Regions from separate parts of the Homo sapiens genome. Here region 1 is linked to region 2. The links come from fine-mapping of genetic effects on gene expression. A gene starts in region 2. The other region holds a variant in brackets. All regions are shown on one strand. Distances are between the middles of the regions. Region 1 has its middle 3.0 kb from the start of PEX39. Region 2 holds the start of PTCRA (pre T cell antigen receptor alpha).

The links.
Region 1: its variant is fine-mapped to the expression of PTCRA in whole blood (INTERVAL, PIP above 0.99).

What each region holds. Positions count from the first base shown.
Region 1 is chr6:42,891,151-42,896,529 of GRCh38, forward strand. No RefSeq gene overlaps it. Among named protein-coding and RNA genes, the nearest start is that of PEX39, 3.0 kb to the left of the region's middle. RefSeq lists enhancers at 1-12, 73-122. The variant A/T (reference allele first, on the strand shown) is at 2,858.
Region 2 is chr6:42,913,812-42,919,133 of GRCh38, forward strand. PTCRA (pre T cell antigen receptor alpha) reads left to right here and starts at 2,242. Exons shown (of 4, transcript NM_138296.3): 1 at 2,242-2,316. The coding sequence starts at 2,259.

The sequences.
Region 1 (5,379 bases), 23 kb before region 2:
CCGGGCGCGCGTACAAGGATTCAGATACAACGCATGGCGGGGGATAATCCCCATACTAGGCTCCGCAGCACGGGACAAAGCATAACTGTAGAGTTGTTCCCAGAGGCCTCAGGAGTGACACCGCCACCAAGCCACGCTACTCTCTTAGTTGTTATTATTGTTTTGTGTTGTTTTAGACGGAGTCTCACTCTGTTGCCCAGGCCGGAGTGCAGCGATGCGATCTCAGCGCACTGCAACCTCCGCCTCCTGGTTCAAGCGATCCACAGGGTCCCTAGTGCCTCAGCCTCCCTAGTAGCTGGTGTATGCCACCAAGCCCAGCTAATTTTTGTATTTTTAGTAGAAACAGGGTTTCACCATGTTGGCTAGGCTAGTCTCGAACTCCTGACCTTAAGTGATGCACCCGCCTCAGCTTTCCAAAGTGCGGGGATTACAGGTGTGAGCCACCGCACCCAGCCAGAGCCTCACCACTTTCTTCACACTTCCTGCCATCCTTCAATTCTTGGTGGTCCCAGAGAAGATCGAAGGTGAAAGCAGGTCAGATGTGCTACAGCTGCTCTGACTGCTCGGAAAGTCAGGTTTTTAAATTATCAAAAGTGGCCGGGCACGGTGGCTCACACTTGTAATCCCAGCACTTTGGGAGGTGGAGGCAGGTGGATCTCAAGGTCAGGAGTTTGAGACCAGCCTGACCAACATGGGGCAACCCCCGTCTCTACTAAAAATACAAAAATTAGCTGGGTGTGGTGGCATGCACCTGTAATCCCAGCTACTCAGGAGGCTGAGGCAGGAGAATCGCTTGAACCTGGGAGGCAGAAGTTGCAGTGAGCTGAGATTGCAGCACTGCACTCTACCCTCGGTGACACAGCAAAACTCTGTCTCAAAAAAAAAAAAAAAAAGTATCAAAAGCTAGACTGATCTGGTGAACATCACCTTAATCAAAGAATCAAAGCTTAATGGCCAGGCGTGGTGGCTCACACCTGTAATCCCAGCACTTTGGGAGGCTGAGGTGGGCAGGTCACCTGAGATCAGGAGTTTGAGACCAGCCTGGCCAACATGGCGAAACCCCATCTCTACTAAAAATACAAAAAAATTAGCCAGGCATAGTGGTGCGCACCTGTAATCCCACCTACTTGGGAGGCTGAGGCAGAAGAATTGCTTGAACCTAGGAGGCAGGGAGGTTGCAGTGAGATGAGATCACACCACTGCACTCCAGCCTGGGCAACAGAGTGAGACTCAGTCTCAAAAAAAAAAAAAAAAAAAAAGCTTAATAGGACAAACTGGCCTTGTGTGCCTTCTGATGTGATGCACTGGGAAGGACACACACACGGGGAGTACATTTCTGTAGTAGTCCTCCCCAAAATGCCCAAAAAATGTTCACTCACCACCTAGTCTTGAGGAAATAGAGATCAAAGTGAGAGAGATTCTGCAAAATGATTGGTCTGGACACTTTACAGATGTCGTTGTTATAAAACATTAAGAAAAAGCTAAGAACTACCCCAGATTAAAGGAGACATAAAAAATAAATACAGGCCAGACACAGTGGCTCATGCCTTTAATCCCAGCACTTTGGGAGGCTGAGGTCGGTGGATTGCTTGAACTCAGGAATTCAAGACCAGCCTGGGCAATATAGCAAAACCCCATCTCTACTAAAAAATACAAAAAAAAAAAATTGCTGAACATGGTGGTGGACACCTGTAGTCCCAGCTATTCTGGAGGCAGTGGTCGAAGAATCGCTTGAACCCGGGTAGGTGGAGGTTGCACTGAGCTGTGATTGCCAGCAACTTCCGACTGGGAGACAGAGTGAAACTCTGTCTCCAAAAATAAAATAAAATATAAATAAATAAATAAATTCAATGAGTGATCCTGGATTAGATGCAAGATTGTGTAGGGGAGATCAGCTCTAAAGGACATTTTACCCTTGGGGAAATTTGAATATGATCCATATATTAGATGACAACGATATATCAATGTTAAATTTATCAAGTGTGATAATTGTGGTTATGTGTGGGAATTACCTTGTTCATAGCAAATACATTCTGAAGTATGTAGAGGTGAAGTGTCATGATGACAGAAAGAAAGCAAATGTGGCAAAATTGCTAAGAATTAGTGAATCCACGTGAGGGTTTGAAACTTGTCAAAATAAAAAGTTGGGGTAGGCCCGGTGCAGTGGCTCACGCCTATAATCCCAGCACTTTGGGAGTGGTCAAGGCAGGAGGATCACTTGAACCCAGGAGTTCAAGACTAACCTGGGCAACATAGTGAGACCCCCTCCAAAAACAAAAATTGGCTGGATGTGGTGGCACACACCAGTAGTTCCAGCTACTTGGAAGGCTGAGGCTGGAGTATCACTTGAGCTCAGGAGGTTGAGGCTGCAGTGAGCCAAGATTGTTCCACTGCACTCTAGCCTGAGCAACAGAGACTCTGTTAAAAAAAAAAAAATTGGGGTAGGGGGCACTTGGTAAGAGCTTGAGAAGCCAGTCTGGAGGAAACTGACCATATTGAATGTTGTATAATAAAGAATTTTGAAGGGGTGGCCTGCCCCTCCACACCTGCGGGTATTTCTCGTCAGGTGGGACGAGGGACTAAAAAAAGAAATAAGACACAGAGACAAAGTATAGAGAAAGAACACTGGGCCCAGGAGACCAGCGCTCAGCGTACGGAGGACCTGCACTGGCCCCAGTCTCTGAGTTCCCTCAGCATTTACTGATTATTATTTTCACTGTCTCAGCAAGGGGAATGCAGCAGGAGAACAGGGTGATAGCGGGGAGAAGGTCAGCAAGAAAACATGTGAGCAAAGGAATCTGTGTCACAAATAAGTTCAAGGGAAGGTACTATGCCTGGATGTGCACATAGGCCAGAT[A/T]TATGCTTCTCTCCACCCAAACATCTCAGTGTAGTAAAGAATAACACAGCAGTATTGCCACCAGCATATCTCGCCTCCAGCCACAGGGCGGTTTTCTCCTATCTCAGAATAGAACGAATGTACAATCGGGTATTATACTGAGACATTCCGTTCTCAGGGGCATGCAGGAGACAGAGGCCTTCCTCTTATCTCAACCGCAAGAGGCCTTCCTCTTTTACTAATCCTCCTCAGCACAGACCCTTCACGGGTGTCGGGCTGGGGGATGGTCAGGTCTTTCCCGTCCCACGAGGCCATACCTCAGGCTGTCTCAGTGGGGAGAAACCTTGGACAATACCTGGCTTTCCTGGGCAGAGGTCCCTGTGGCTTTCTGCAGTGCATTGTGCCCCTGGTTAATCGAGAATGGAGAATGGCGATGACTTTTACCAAGCATACTGCCTGTAAACATTTTGTTAACAAGGCACATCCTGCACAGCCCTAGATCCCTTAAACCTTGATTCCATACAACACATATTTCCGTGAGCACAAGGTTGGGGCTAAAGTTACATATTAACAGCATCTCAAGGCAAAACAATTGTTCAGGGTACAGATCAAAATGGAGTTTCTTATGTCTTCCTTTTCTATGTAGACACAGTAACAGTCGGATCTCTCTTTTCCCTACATATCCCCCTTTTTGACAAAACTGCCATCGTCGTTATGGCCCGTTCTTGCTGGTCGCTGTCTCTTCGGAGCTGGTGGATACACCTGTGGACTAACAACAGACAGAACAGGCATACAAGGATTAATATGAAATTTACAATAGTGGAACTTCTGATGGTTTTTAACCAAGTGACAGTGTTAAGATTTGTGAGGCCATCAGTAGCTTTCACGATTGCCTCAGTTCCCAAATTTAAATGGGCTTTCGATGCCTCAAAATTTTGTTATTTTAATTTTGAAATATCTAAAGTAAGATTATCTTCTCTTCCCTGTAGATGGCATCTAACCATGTCCCAGTGATGCTCAGACTCATTATAGGCTTGGGGTGTAATACAAAAATCTGACATATTCCAGTCACACTGTAACTGAAAAAGATATTCCAAGCTCATGAGCCTATTTCCCAGCCAAATGACAGTTTGTCTAAGATCATTAATTTCGTTTGCCAATTTTTGATTTATTTGGGTCTGAGAATTCCACAATTTTGAGGAATTCTTTCGCCAATCATTTACATATTCTGCAGTTTGAACAGAGGAGTGTAAAGCAATTCCAGCAGCTGCAGCAGTAGCTGTGACTGCAATAAGGCCCATAATCACTGCAATCAAAGTAAAAATCTTTTGGATCTAGTTAGAATTCCTTTTAATACTTCCGTTAAAATATGGAAGATGGCGAAGCCTCCCACTGTCGGTCCATGGACACAGGGATCCGCACACCTTCTCTTGCCCTCACTAGCAGAATATGGCGCTGCCAATTAAAAGTCAAATCAATGCAAGTAAACAATCTACAGTTTTCACAGGTTATAGTTTGGGAATCTGGTTTAATAACTATGTTTTCTATAACTAGCATATAAGGGGGTTTTACACAACTTTGTAAAGGAATTGTCAGATTGGAATTTAGGTTGATAGTATAATATGGCTTACGATTTCTTGTTTCTGTAGCTTGATTTCCAGACCAAATTCTAATGTAGTGCGAGGCCACAGTAAGCTTCCATAATTTTGGATGTTTAGGACCAGTAACAGGACTAACTAACTTTGGTCGAGGTGATGAAATTCCCTTTTCACCCCATTTCCAGGGATAGGGTGATTCTAGCCTTCTATAAACCTGGTCCAGCCTTTCAATTAAATCACTATCATAGGCCGGATTAATGGGCCAGATGGATGGGGCCTGTAAACATGAGTGAGTCTGGCCCATACAATTATATATAATATAATTGTATATAATATAATATAATATATAACTATTATATAATATTATAGTAGTTCCAAATTCATTGTTTTGTAATACCACCGCAGTATTAGCCACACATTCTTCCCAAACTAAGGCTTCTGGGCTTTTTGATTCTTTGGGAATTTCCTTGGGGCAAGGCTTCCCCTTAGGCCCAGATTTTAATGATCTTTGATAAGAAGCGTCCTCTAAATTATTTATCTGTGGCCCGAGTGACATTCCACTTACCATGTGATAAGTAAATTTACTGGTGGCACTGACGGTAGGTACTTCTACCAACCAGTTTTGGGTTGTAGGCATTAAACATCCTGGTGCCTTCCCTAGGCAAATAGGAGGATAATGATACCCAGTGGAAACATTTATCATCATTCCTTCTTCTTTAGGTTGGGCAGGGCAACAATCGTCTGTGGGGCCTGGTACCCATGCCCTATTATTAACATATACTTCAACAGGATTATCCATCCATGTGACTGCCCAAATTAAGGGTGGGAAAGGCACATAGGCACAGTAAGTATAATTAGTTGCAGCTGCTCCTGCAGACATGGGGAGACTTACTACCGTTGATATAATAATCAAAGCTGTAAGCAGTATATTCTCTGGAGTTCACA
Region 2 (5,322 bases):
AGGCAGGCAGATCATTTGAGCTCAGGAGTTCTAGACCAACCTGGGCAACATGGTAAAATCCCATCTCTACAAAAATACAAAAAATTAGCCAGGTGGTGGCGCACGCCTGTGGTCTTAGCTACTGGAGAGGTTAATTTGGGGGTGAGGCAGGAGGATCGCTTGAGCCAGGGAGGTGGAGGTTGCAGTGAGCCTTGACTGTACCACTGCACTCCAGTCTGGGTGACAGAGCAAGACCCTGTCTCAAAAACAAAAAAAGTAGCCGGGCGCGGTGGCTCACCCTTGTAATCCCAGCACTTTAGGAGGCCAAGGTGGGCGGATTGAGAGGTCAAGAGATCGAGACCATCCTGGCCAACATGGTGAAACCCCATCTCTACTAAAAATACAAAAATCAGCTGGGCATGGTAGCGCACGCCTGTAGTCCCAGCTACTCTGGAGGCTGAGGCAGGAGAATCGCTTGAACCCGGGAGGCAGAAGTCTCAGTGAGCCGAGATCACACCACTGCACTACAGCTTGGTGACGGAGAGAGATTCCATCTCCAAAAAAAAAAAAAAAAGCAAATTTGGAAAAGCTTTTATGAACAAAGATGGCCATTGTCCCAAACTGGAAACCCAAATGTCTAACAATAAAGGAATGGCTGCTGTAACAGAATGTCTGATTAAAAACAAAAGGACGCCAGGCACAGTGGCTCATGCCTGTAATGCCAGAACTTTGAAGGGTGGATCACTTGAGCTCAAGAGTTCGAGACCAGACTGGCAATATGATGAAACCCAGTCTCTGCAAAAAACACAAAAATTTAGCTGGGTGTGGTGGCATGTGCCTGTGGTCCCAGCTGCTTGGGAAGGTGAGGCAGGAGGATCGCTTGGGACTGGGAGGCAGATGTTGCATTGAGGTGAGATCATGCCACTGCACTCCAGCCTGAGTGATAAAGCCAGACTGTCTCCAAAAAATCCAAAAGGCTGAGGTGGGAGGATTGCTTGAGCCCAGGATTTCAAGAGTGTAGTGAGCTGTGATCGCATCACTGCACTCCAGCCTGGGTGACAGAGTAAAAGCCTGTCTCTTAAAAAAAAAAAAAAAGTTAAAATGGTATAATAAATGCCAGGCATGTGGCTCACACCAGTACTCCCAGCACTTCGGGAAGCCAGAGCAGGAGGATCGCTTGAGCCCAGGAGTACGAAACCAACATAGGCAACAAAGCAAGACTCCATCTCTACAAAAAATCAAAATAAAAATAAATTAGCTGGGTGTGGTAGCGCATGCCTGTGGTCTTAGCTACTCAGGAGGCTGACGAAGGAGGATCACTTGAGCCCAGGAGTTCAAGACTGCAGTGAGCTATGATTGTACTGCCGCATTCTAGCCTGGGCAACAAAGAAAGAACCCCATCTCTAAAAAAAAAAATTAAATAAATAAAAGGAGGGCTGTAACAACATGGCAAAAAGTTTACTGGGCATCTTTTTTTATTTTTTTTTTTTGAGATGGCGTCTCGCTCTGTCGCCCAGGTTGGAGTGCAGTGGCACAATCTTGGCTCACTGCAAGCTCCACCTCCCGGGTTCACACCATTCTCCTGCCTCAGCCTCCTGAATAGCTGGGACTACAGGTGCCCGTCACCACACCCAGCTAATTTTTTTGTATTTTTAGTAGAGACGGGGTTTCACCGTGTTAGCCAGGATGGTCTTGATCTCCTGACCTTGTGATCCGCTCGTCTCAGCCTCCCAAAGTGCTGGGATTACAGGCGTGAGCCACTGCGCCTGGCCCTGGGTATCTTTTTGCCTATAATAAAGCCAGCCATCTAAAAACAGTTCAAGCCCTGGCTCTGGTACCTGTCAGCTGTGTGGCCCTGGGCGGGTCCCTCACTCTCTGTGAGCCTCAGTTGCCTCACCTGTGAAATGTAACTCAGTGGTTGAGTGGATCAAGTGAAGGGCTGTATGTCAAGCCCCTGTCAAGCCACCTGGTGCTCCGTGTCCTGTGGATGGTAGCTGCCCTGAAGCGGGACTTTGCAGACTGAAGTGCTGTCTCTTCAGAGGGAGTGCAGGTGTCCGGCTCCTGGTGTGGGAGAGGCACCCTGTGCTCCCTGGCCCGTGAGACAAGATTGGGTTTGGGGGCCAGGGCAGGAGTAGGGGCCCGTCACCAGGGGAAACGGCTCGTGGTAGAGCAGCTGAGGTGCAGCTGGGCCTGTGGCCTAGAAGGCAGTCTTGTGGGTGCCTCCTCCCCCAGCCGCAACTCAGGTCTGCAGCTGGGTCCTGCCTCCTTCCGAGTGGGCCATGGCCGGTACATGGCTGCTACTTCTCCTGGCCCTTGGGTGTCCAGCCCTACCCACAGGTGAGCCCCCTCTTTGCCTTCCTCTCTGTCCCTCCTCAGTCTGCCGAAGCCCATCCCCTCACTCTGGACCTCCCTGGGTACTGATGGGCTGCAGGGAGGCAGGACAAGAGATATTTAGGGACCTCTGGGGAGGGTCCCTCTGGGGAGGGGACCTCTGGGGAGGGGACCCTATATAGAGGGTCCCCACTATACTCTTCCCATTGTACTCTTCCTCCCAGCCACCTTGCTCTGGGGCTCCTATGTCCTCCTGCCCTGGAGCCCACAGTGTTGATAGGGAGGCTGCCCCTCTTAGAGGTATAGAGAAATGAGAACAAACTGGATGGACATCCATAGAAGGTGGGGTTAGGGTAGCCAGTGTGTGTGATGTGATATGCAATGATGTCATATGGGTAACAGTGTGAGGTCCTGTCCTGTCCTTCTTGCCCTCAGGATGCCTGCCCTAGTTCAATAGGACTCAGGGTGTCTCAAGTTCACTCACAGCTCACGCTTATCAGTGGGCTCAGGATAGGACCCAAGGCCTCTTCCCAGGGTATTTACCCCCAGCCCTCCCATGATCAAGGCTGGAGCCAAAGGACTCATGTTTTGAGGGGAAAATTCCAGCTTCATCTAGAAGCATGTGCATGTGTGCATGTACGTGGTGGGGGAAGGTCCATGACTTTTGAGTCAGGGGGGTCTCCTTGATCTAGAGCTGGCCCCAAGTATCTCACAGGCACTCCTTCATTAGGGAGATAAACCACACCTATGTGGAACACAGGGAGCCCATGGCAGGAGGCCTGAGCTCGGGAAGGAAGTAACCAGGGTAAGCAGGGACAATCCTGGGATGCTTCATGGAAGAAGTGGAAGCTGAACTCAACTTGGGGAATGTCTCTATCTATATAACTGAAAAGGCTCTGGAGGTTGAGTCCTGGAGCTCGTGCCCAGCCTTCTCTACTACCTTTGTTTGCAATGCCTTATTAATATTAATATCAACAATTGCACTAATACTTATCTGCCAGGGCATTTTACACTTATGGCCTTTACTCTTCACAACAATTTTGCTGGGCTGGTATTATTAACAGCATTATATTATTATTATTATTATTATTATTATTATTATTATTATTATTTATTTTTGAGACAGAGTCTCGCACTGTCGCCCGGGCTGGAGTACAATGGTGTGATCTTGGCTCACTACAACCTCCACCTCCCGGGTTCACTTGATTCTCCTGCCTCAGCCTCCCAAGTAGCTGGGATTACAGGCACCTGCCACCACGCCCAGCTAATTTTTTGTATTTTTAGTACAGACGGAGTTTCACTGTGTTGGCCAGGCTGGTCTTGAACTCCTGACCTCATGATCCGCCCGCCTCAGCCTCCCAAAGTGCTGGGATTACAGACGTGAGCCACCTCACCCAGCCCGTTATATTATTATTATTATTATTATTATTATTATTATTATTATTATTAGACAGAGTTTGCTCTGTTGCCCAGATTGGAGTGCAATGGCACAATCTCAACTCACTGCATCCTCTGCCTCCCAGGTTCAAGCGGTTCTCCTGCCTCAGCTTCCCAAGTAGCTGGGATTACAGCCGCCCACCATCATGCCCGGCTAATTTTTGTATTTTTAGTGGAAACAGGGGTTCACCACGTTGGCCAGGCTGGTCCCGAACTCCTGACTTCAAGTGATTCACCTGACTCAGCCTCCCAAAGTGCTGGGATTACAGGCATAAGCCACTGAGCCCGGCCTAACACCATTATATTGATGAGACCATTGGGACTCACAAAAAATATTGTTCCTTCAACCTAAATAAATAAATAAATACATACATAATGAAAACAAAACAAAACAAACAAAAAGAGTCAGAAAATTGGCTGGGCGCGGTGGCTTACGCCTGTAATTCCAGCACTTTGGAAGGCCAAGGCGGGCAGATCACTTGAAGTCAGGAGTTTGAGACCAGCCTGGCCAACATGACGAAACCCCATCTCTACTAAAAAATACAAAAATTAGCTGGACATGGTGGCAGGTGCCTGTAATCCAGCTACTTAGGATGCTGAGGCAGGAGAATTGCTTGAACCCGGGAGGAGGAGGTTGCACTGAGCCAAGATCCCACCACTGCACTCCAGGCTAGGCGACAGAACCAGAATCAGTCTCAAAAAAAAAAAAAGCCAGGCATGGGGCTCATGCCTGTAATCCTAGCACTTTGCACTTTGGGAGGCTGAGGCAGGTGGATCACGAGGTCAGGAGTTCAAGACCAGCCTGGCCAAGATGGTGAAACCCCATCTCTACTAAAAATACAAAAATTAGCCACGCGTGGTGGTAGGTGCCTGTAATCCCAGCTACTCAGGAGGCTGAGGCAGGAGAATCGCTTGAACCCCGGTGGGTGGAGGTTGCAGTGAACAGAGATCCTGCCACTGCACTCCAGCCTGGGCAACAGAGTGAGACTCCATCTCAAAAATAATAATAATAATAATAATGAAATAAAATAAAGACTCAGAAAATTAAGTGAATGAGTCAGGAGTCACGCTTAGCTCTGTCTGAAGCTATGTCCTAGACGGTCCACTGTGTCACATGGCAAAATCTTAGTCATCCTTCAAAGTGAGATGGTTTAGGGGATTTGGAGTCACAGAGATCTGAGAGTTCAAATCCTGAATGGACAACTTACCATTTATGTGTTAGTAGGATAATTTTTTTTTTTTTTTTTTTGAGACAGAGTCTCGCACTGTCGCCCAGGCTGGAGTGCAGTGGTGCAATCTTGGCTCACTGTAAGCTCCGCCTCCCGGGTTCACGCCATTCTCCTGCCTCAGCCTCCCGAGTAGCTGGGACTACAGGTGCCTGCCACCATGCCTGGCTAATTTTTTGTATTTTTAGTAGAGACAGGGTTTCACCATGTTAGCCAGGATGGTCTCGATCTCCTGACCTCATGATCCGTCCACCTATTTTTTTTTTTTTTAATTTTTTGAGACAGAGTCCCGCTCTGTCGCCAGGCTGGAGTGCAATTCTCCTGCCTCAGCCTCCAGAGTAGCTGGGAT